Homo sapiens: one gene and its partner. The protein of the gene in region 1 interacts with the protein of each later gene in a biochemical or structural test. Each region holds a gene or a part of one and is shown on either strand. Other genes may lie near its edges.

What was found. The genes of interacting proteins can lie anywhere in the genome.
Region 2: the proteins of MPP4 (region 1) and DGKK interact in a test that uses a peptide from one of them, tested with the Homo sapiens proteins (one large-scale study listed by IntAct).

What each region holds. Positions count from the first base shown.
Region 1 is NC_000002.12:201,695,720-201,699,982, forward strand, and holds the start of MPP4 (MAGUK p55 subfamily member 4), read right to left. Parts: upstream 2,926-4,263; 5' UTR 2,868-2,925; intron 1-2,867.
Region 2 is NC_000023.11:50,460,663-50,464,357, reverse strand, and holds part of DGKK (diacylglycerol kinase kappa), read left to right. Parts: intron 1-3,695. UniProt on the Homo sapiens protein: Diacylglycerol kinase that converts diacylglycerol/DAG into phosphatidic acid/phosphatidate/PA and regulates the respective levels of these two bioactive lipids.

The sequences.
Region 1 (4,263 bases):
ACAGGTTAAGAGCTCTTCCCAGAGAGCATTATTTCTGACTCTTCCAGCATGCAACATGTATACCTTCGGATAGGAAGTGGAGGGGCTAGCAGCTGGAGTGGGCTCAGAGTGCACCAAAATGGTAACAACCAAGGGGTATGCGGTGGGGGTAGGGACCAACAACATTGTTATAGTAGGACAATAAAGAATACATTAAGGTTTTTGTTATAAAAGGAACACTTCAAATTAGTTGTTAAAGACTGGAGTATTGACTCTGATAGGGTTGAGAACCACTGTCTAGAATCTAGACTGATTGTGGGTTGAAGCCAGGAAGGCTATCTAAAAGAAGAAAAGATCATTATTATTTTGACTCTAAATTCTAAGGCAGTGAGAAGAGCAACACAGAAAGCTGTTACAGCATTTTAGACAACTTTCCCCTACACATTCCTTTCCAAACACCCTGAAGTCTTCCGGTTTGCTAGGTTCTACCAAAGCTTGACATCGTTATGCTTTTGACTTGCCCTCCATCACCTACCTTGCCCACTTGTAATTGAGTCAGATTAAACAATGCGTTTTCCTGTGTTCTGTGTTGTTTTTGACTCTATTGAATCATTTAGCATCACAGCTGCATATCTGACTCATCTTCCTCCCTGGAGGGGAGCACTTCCAGGGTAGAAAATTGAAAAGGGAGATGGAGTGCCTGCTAGAGAGCAGACAAAAGTCAGAGCAGACAGATGAGGCTGACACTCAGGCTGACTCTTAAAATTGGTTCCCCTCCAGCACCTCACAAATCACACGTCCTTGGCAAAGCAGTGCAGATTAAACAAGCCAACTGTTGTTTGCACGTCATGAGGTGGACCACATTTCTGCCATATTTAATGCCCGAATGACTGTGCTGAGCTAGGCCTACCCATTCAGCAGTTGGGGGCACACACTAGAGACTACATATTTCTGAGATGAATTTATTGTGAGGGAGCTTTACAGATAGACTGTGCTTCACAGATAGGCGGTGGTTTCTTGAGTGAATGCAATGGTTAAAATAGCTTCTAATAAATCTAGAGCCAACTTCAGGGCTACCTAGATAACTAATTCATACATTCTAAAAGGCTCGTTTTGACCCAAAGTTTCTCAGCCATAGAGGCAAAAACAATAATTACAGTAATCTACAACTTATGCAAATTCTAAAAACTGTGCTTGGCTCCTCATCTTCAGGTTCCTATGACAAATTTATGGTGGACTGAATGTTGTGTCCCCACCCCCAATTCAGATGTTGAAGCCCTAATCCCCATTGTTGATGGCATTTGAAGATGGGGCCTTTGGGAGGTAACTGGGTTAAGGTCATGAGGTAGAGGCCTCAAGATGTCATTAGCGTCTGGGTAAGAGCCATCAGAGTTCATGTGTTCTCTCTCTCCCTGCCAGATGATGGCACAGTGAAAACGCGGCCATCTGAAAGCCAGGAAGAGAACCCTCGCAAGAACCCAACCATGCTGGCATCCCAATCTTCAACTTCCAGCCTCCAGAACTGTATGAGAAAATACATTTCTGTTGTTTAAGCCACTGTCTATGGTACTTTGTTATGACAGCCAAAGCTAAGACAAAACTCATAGAAAAAAACTTCCAGAAAATGATTTTCCCTCCCTCCAGGTAGCTAAGAAAACAGTTGCAACTTCTTGCCCTCATAGCACTTCTCATTTTCCCAGTTCTTGTATCCACTGGCTTGCTCAGTGTCTGTCTCCCGCAGGTGTCATGTCTGCAGAGGGCCTGGGGAGCAGAGATGTTGCTTATCTTGTTCATGCTGCAGCTTCACCTGCAACAGTGCTTGGGCCATAGCAAGCACTTGGTATGTTCAGTTGTTGTTGGGAAGGGGTAGAACAAGGAGAGGCCAAGATCCAGAAGTAAAAGGCTGATACCTCCCTCAAGGCAGTAGCCAGCAGCTGGGACTTCAATCCTAATGGGGGAGGCAGCTGAACTCCAGAGGCCTGTGCCCTCCCTTCCTTTCCTCCCTGGCCTGGTATCCTGACTTAAACCTCTTTCCCTATCAAACTTTAAAACTGGGGGCAGAAGCGGATCTTAGAGATAATCAAATGCAAAACCTTTGTTTTACAGATAAGGAATCTGACATTCAAGGAGGTATTCAGTAGAGTTAACATGTAGTAAAATCGAGTTTTCCTCTTTTGTTTCCTTAGTCCTGAAAGATGCTGATGCCTGGCATGATGCCTGGCAAAAGACTTACCTTCCTTTCCATGACTTCTGTACCAAATTTGTCAGTTGAAGCTTATCTATTTCTGCTATCTTGAGAGTGAGAATTCTTGATTGAGACTGCAAATAAGTAAGCACCCACCACATGCAATTCCGGACTGAGTACACAGAAAGGATAGCCAGTTCTTGACTCAGAAGATGCATTAGTGTGACTGATGCCTAAGGAATTTGTCCTAAATCTTGTTTTAAAAGTATTTCCATTAGCTTTTTAAAACGTACTATTAAATGCCACAACCCCCTACCCTTACTATGCTTGTTTTTCAAAATAGTGCTTTTTACTAGACAAACCCTAAAAAAGCACTTGGAAACTTAATGATGAGAAATGGCCCTTACAAAAATAGCTGGCTTCCTCTGGGTCCAAATGCTGTTGATTAGGACCAGGGCAAATGCCCATTGTACTCAATCTTCCTGACAACTCATTATTCCATACTGAAGAAATGGCTTCTCGAAGCAAAACCTGCTCTTTCAAGATCATAAAATTCCCCATATCATTTGAGTTAAAATGAAACTAAGCCATTTGAGTTAGATTACCCAGATTTATATCTTTAGCTATTAAAAACTGACAGGCAAGCTAGGCAGTTATGGATACATCTTCTGGTAACTGAGGATTATTTGCCAAGGTCTCTTACCTGCAAGACTGTAAACATGCATGTTGCTCCTATCCAGACAAAAGCTTTAGTAGGATACTAGTGGCCTGTTAGCTGCCAAAGTCACCTCACTGCTCCCGATAAAATCTCTGCACATCCTCTTTGATGTAATCCACAGATGCCTAACCCAGCCTAACAACTAAATTACTCACAAGCCTTTCCTGCCACAAATCTTCTTAAGTATTCCTTGAAGTCTAATTTGTATCATTTTCAAACCTACATTCTAGTATTTTCTCTCAAATTGCCAACACATAGTTAACGGCAGAAAAACATAGTATTTTTGTTGATTAGTTCAAGATGACAGACATTCCACAACAGAAGATAGCATTTTTAATGAAAGAAAAAAATGTGGCAGGACCGGAAATAAGCCAATAACCTACTAACCTTATTAAATCTCTCATGTTATGGTGAGAAAACAACTGAAGACTGTTCAGCTAATAATAGAAACCCATCAAAAACAGTACCTTCTGGTCAATCCCCTCCCAAGCCACTGTTCTGAACCTAACAAATAGTGCTTTCTGTCTCAGATAGGAGCTACTTCTTTATCTGAAAACTTAATACTGCAGGGAGTGCTCAGTGGGGAGAGCATTTGGAAGGGGATATTGCAGAAAGGAGAGGAAGGTATTGCTGACAGCAAGGCAAAAGGTAGAGACCAAATGGCAATTATCAGAGGGTCCTCAGCCCTTCTACCCATATTAATCACATGGCTTTCCTTATCTCTCCATCATAGATGAAAACACAAGTTGGGAATGTGATACATTTGTGTTTTGAGTACAGCATATTTTGTGAAAAGCACTTGATTTCAATAAGATTTTCATTTTTAACTCACTTTTAAGAACTTTCAATACATAACCAGCTATGAAATGACATCTCTGGCAGCTGTAGTAGCAAAAAGCACTGGACTTCTAGGGAAGTAGGGAGTAGGGAAGTTCTAGGCTGGAGTCCCAGCTCTGGCAGTGAGCAAATCTTGGTCACTGCTTGTCTGAAAAATGGGGGGAAATGGGGATAACACCTGCATCCTTGGGCTGCTGTAAGCATTCATTACGCATGTGAATGACCATTGTAAACTGCTGCAGGAGTGCCAAGGACTTCTATTTACAAACATTGGCCTGGAGATTTAGGGTTTTTCTTCCAATACACTTCAAAATTTATAACTTTAATATGCTATCTGAAAAGCATATAGTAGGAAGAATCCAAAGTAACTGAACAGTTTCATTCAAGACTCCAGTAAAAGGACGAATTGTAACATGGCTTTTCTTAGAACAGAGACAGCCTATCATCATTGGAAATCTTCTCAATGGGTCAATTTGTCTCAAAGTTTTTGTTTGTCCATTTCCACATATTATCCACCCCCGCCCAGAGTCAGAAATTCTGTAAA
Region 2 (3,695 bases), on another chromosome or scaffold:
AATACCACTCCTCCATGACTAAAGAGCATAAACCTTATTCTTAAAATACAATTTTTTTTAAGATTTAAAATAAAATTAAGAATGGAAGGGTATATGTGTTGGTGAAGAGGATATTACTAATGAAACAAAAACAGAATCCTCTTAAAGAGAAGAAGTACTTCAATGTCACAAAGACCCATTAATTTTCCTGTCAAAACACAACCAAAAAAAAAAAAACCGATTTTTTTAAAAGAAGAAAAAATGAAAGAAAATCCTTCTAATGGGAGTTGACTCAAATTCACTCAAAAACTTTATTCTTTTTATTTTATTTATTTATTTTTAATTAATTTTTAACTGATGCATAATAGATGTACATATTTTCAGGGAACATGTGATAATTTAATATATTTATATAATTTACCAAAAGATTTATTCTTAATATAGAATTTTTGTAATTTGAGAACAAATAGAAAAGATAGGTAGGGGAGAAACACAAAGCCAAGAAAGTCCTCTTAAACAAAAGTATTCTCAGCCTCAACAAAGCCCCTTTTTTTCTCAAAACAAGCAAATACATTTAGAATTATGGGGGGCGGGAAGGGAAGAACATGAACAGTATATTTTAAAGAGAAATATTTTTCTTAAGGAATGAAGATGCCCCCAAACTCACCAAAGTCCTTGAATATTTTTCTGAAAACAAAAAAGAAACAAAGAGAAGGAGAGAGGGAGAAAGAAGGAAGAGAAGGGAGAAGGAGAGAGAGAAACAGAGAGAGGAAGGGAGGGAGGAGGGGAGAAGGAGAGAGGGAGAAAGAAGGAAGAGAAGGGAGAAGGAGGGAGAGAAACAGAGAGAGGAAGAGAGGGAGGAGGGGAGAAGGGAGGGAGGGGGAAAGCCGGACAGGTAGAGAGGAGAGGAAGGTAGGAGCAGGTAGGGAGAGACTGAGATAGGGAGAGGAAAAAAGAGGGAGAGAGACAGAGGAAGGGAGGGAGCCAGAGAGAGAGACAAAGGGAGAGGTGGAGAGGGAAAAAGAAAGAGGGGGAGAGAAGGGAGGAGAGGGAAAAAGAAAGGGGAGACGGAGGAAAGGAGAGGGAGAGAGGAAGGAGGATGGGGGGAGAAATGTGAAGGGAAGGGGAAAAGGACTAGGTAGGATAGAGTGAAGGTGGCAGAGAAGGAGGGGTGGGAAAGAGGAAGAAGAAAATTAACAAAGGGATTATTTTTTAAAGGATCAAAGAAAGAAATTCTCTCCAGGAAAATGCACCAACACCTTACTGCAGACATTGCGTATTATTCCTGATGACTACCCTCTCCATCCCCCACAATAAGGAAAAAAAAACCACACACACACAAAATCTCTTTCTCAAGCTTCTTCAAGGTGGGGAATGTGCGTGTGGGGGGGGTGGTGGGTATGTACCCAATCTCACCCTATCCCAGGGACCTTATGTATCTTTCAGCCTTCACTGTTTCATTAAAAAAAAAAAAAAAAAAAAAAAAAAAAAAAAAAGCAAGGAAAGGAAAAGAAAATCTTTCCAGGAGAGATGTCTCCCATTCTAATTTTTCCCAATAAACTGTTTCTTTTAAAGAAAAGGAAAGAAAGAAAAATCCTACTAGGGAGGGCTCCCCAGCTTCATTAAAACAAGTTGCCCTTGTAGGTCCTCTCCACAAAACCTATTTTTTAATGGAAATCCTCCAGACCTAAAGAGAGATGCTCCCCCACCTCCACCAAAAGCAATGAATCTTTTCCCCTGGAGATTTTTAAAGAAAAAAATCTTCCATTGTAAGAGGAGATACCTTCAACTTTACTAAAATCAATGGACTTTATTCCTCTCCACATCCAAGAGGAGAAAAAAAATATTTGAGGAAAAGGGAAGAAATCCTCCTAATCTAAGGCAAGTTGGCTATAATCCCTCCAACACCATTGAACTTTCTTCCTGAGATTTTTTAAAAGAAAAAGCAAAGACAGAAAAAAAGCCTCAAAAAAAAAAAAAAAAAAAAAGCACTCACTTCTCCCACAGGCTCCACAGATCTGAAGTGTTGTACAAAGAAAAGGTACTATCCCTCTCAAATGGCACCAGTGAACTTTACATTCAGCACTAAGGCTAAAGGATGATACATTTTAATCCCAGGCTGGCTTCCCGCTGCCCCAGTCTATTTCTGGTTACCTTCCCCATCATCCAGGTAGGCAACACTCCCAAGAAAGGCACTGTCCAAAAGAAAAAGAATTAGGAGGCAAACCTTCTGGGGAAAAATCATACCTCTTTTCCAAACCGAACAAATGATTTGGGAATTCGCTGCGTCATTGTTCCCATCTAACACTACAGAGAATTAAGAGTTGATGATAAACTCAAAAGCAGTGACACTCTTGCTATTAACTACCAATTAGTCAGACACCCCTACCTAACAGGGAAGGACCCTTCGCCAACTCAGTAATGGAGGTGATCCATCCTCCATTATGTTTCATTATGTGCTGGCTTTGATGTCTGTTCCTGCAGGGCGATAAAAGGGCTTGATTTTCACAAATCCATAAAATTTGCAAATCATATTTATAAGCAGAGAGACTCAATTAATGTTTTCCAAATTTTAAAATTCATTTATTTCTTTAAAACGTAAACTGATACCTGCTCCCTATGTGCTATGTGTTTAACATTGTGCTAACCACTGAGGATTCTACAGTGAACAAAACCACATGGATGAGACTACCTTTAAGCAAAACTGGTAAATGAGAGACTCAATTACCAAAACAAATATGCAGATGGTGGTTATTTGTTTTACCAGATGCTTTGCCAAGGTATTCACTATTAATAGTCAGTTCTCTCAGCATTCCTCTACTTAAACTAAAATTCAATGTAATAAAATAAAGGAATGCATGCTAATTTCAGAGAATGTGGAAAATCAAGAAAGCTTCTAAAAAGTAAATAAAAATCATCTAGTACCCCACCACTCAGAGATAATCACTGTTAATATTTTGCTATATTTTTCATTTATTTTCTCTGAATATTTGCTTATAGTCTTCTGTAGTAAGACTTTGGGGAATGCACAATTGTGTCTCGGGCTTCACCCTGCCCCAGTCACAGCCCCACACGCTTAATTATTAGATCGTGTTCATTATTCTACCTTGGATTTAGGAAACACTTGTTCATTTTAGCTTAAAGTTCATCTAGTCAAACTCCTGTCTGATCTGATTGTTAAACATATGCTTGAATCACAACCATTCAGGGGCATATTTGCTGTGTGAAGCAGTAAGTATATAGATTTTATGTAGACACAATTGTTGCAGTTGCTCCCATATACAAATGCAGTTTGATCTCACATTTACTTACTGCACTTTTTTGGACACTTAGATTTTATTTGTCCAGTTAGCTTTTGTGACTTGGCCTTGGAGAAGGAGATCCAGAACAAAACCAACCTTATCTTCCCACTGTTAAATTCCCAAAGGGAAAAAATCTAAATTTCTGAGTCACTTTTAACTATATGCCAAAAAAAAAAAAAATTAGTGATGGCTTTGTCTCTTTAACAAGAAGTTACAGCATTATGCTAAACTGGGTATGCCATACCCAGAAGGGAAATAAGAATATATGAGGACATTATCCACAATTATAAGGAAATAGAATATTCAATTCATCCAGCTTTCATTAACCAAGTGTGATCAAAACTTGAGAGAGTTAATAAACTGTATACAACCCAACCAAGGCTGAATCAGTAATTTAAAAGGGAAGTGTAATGC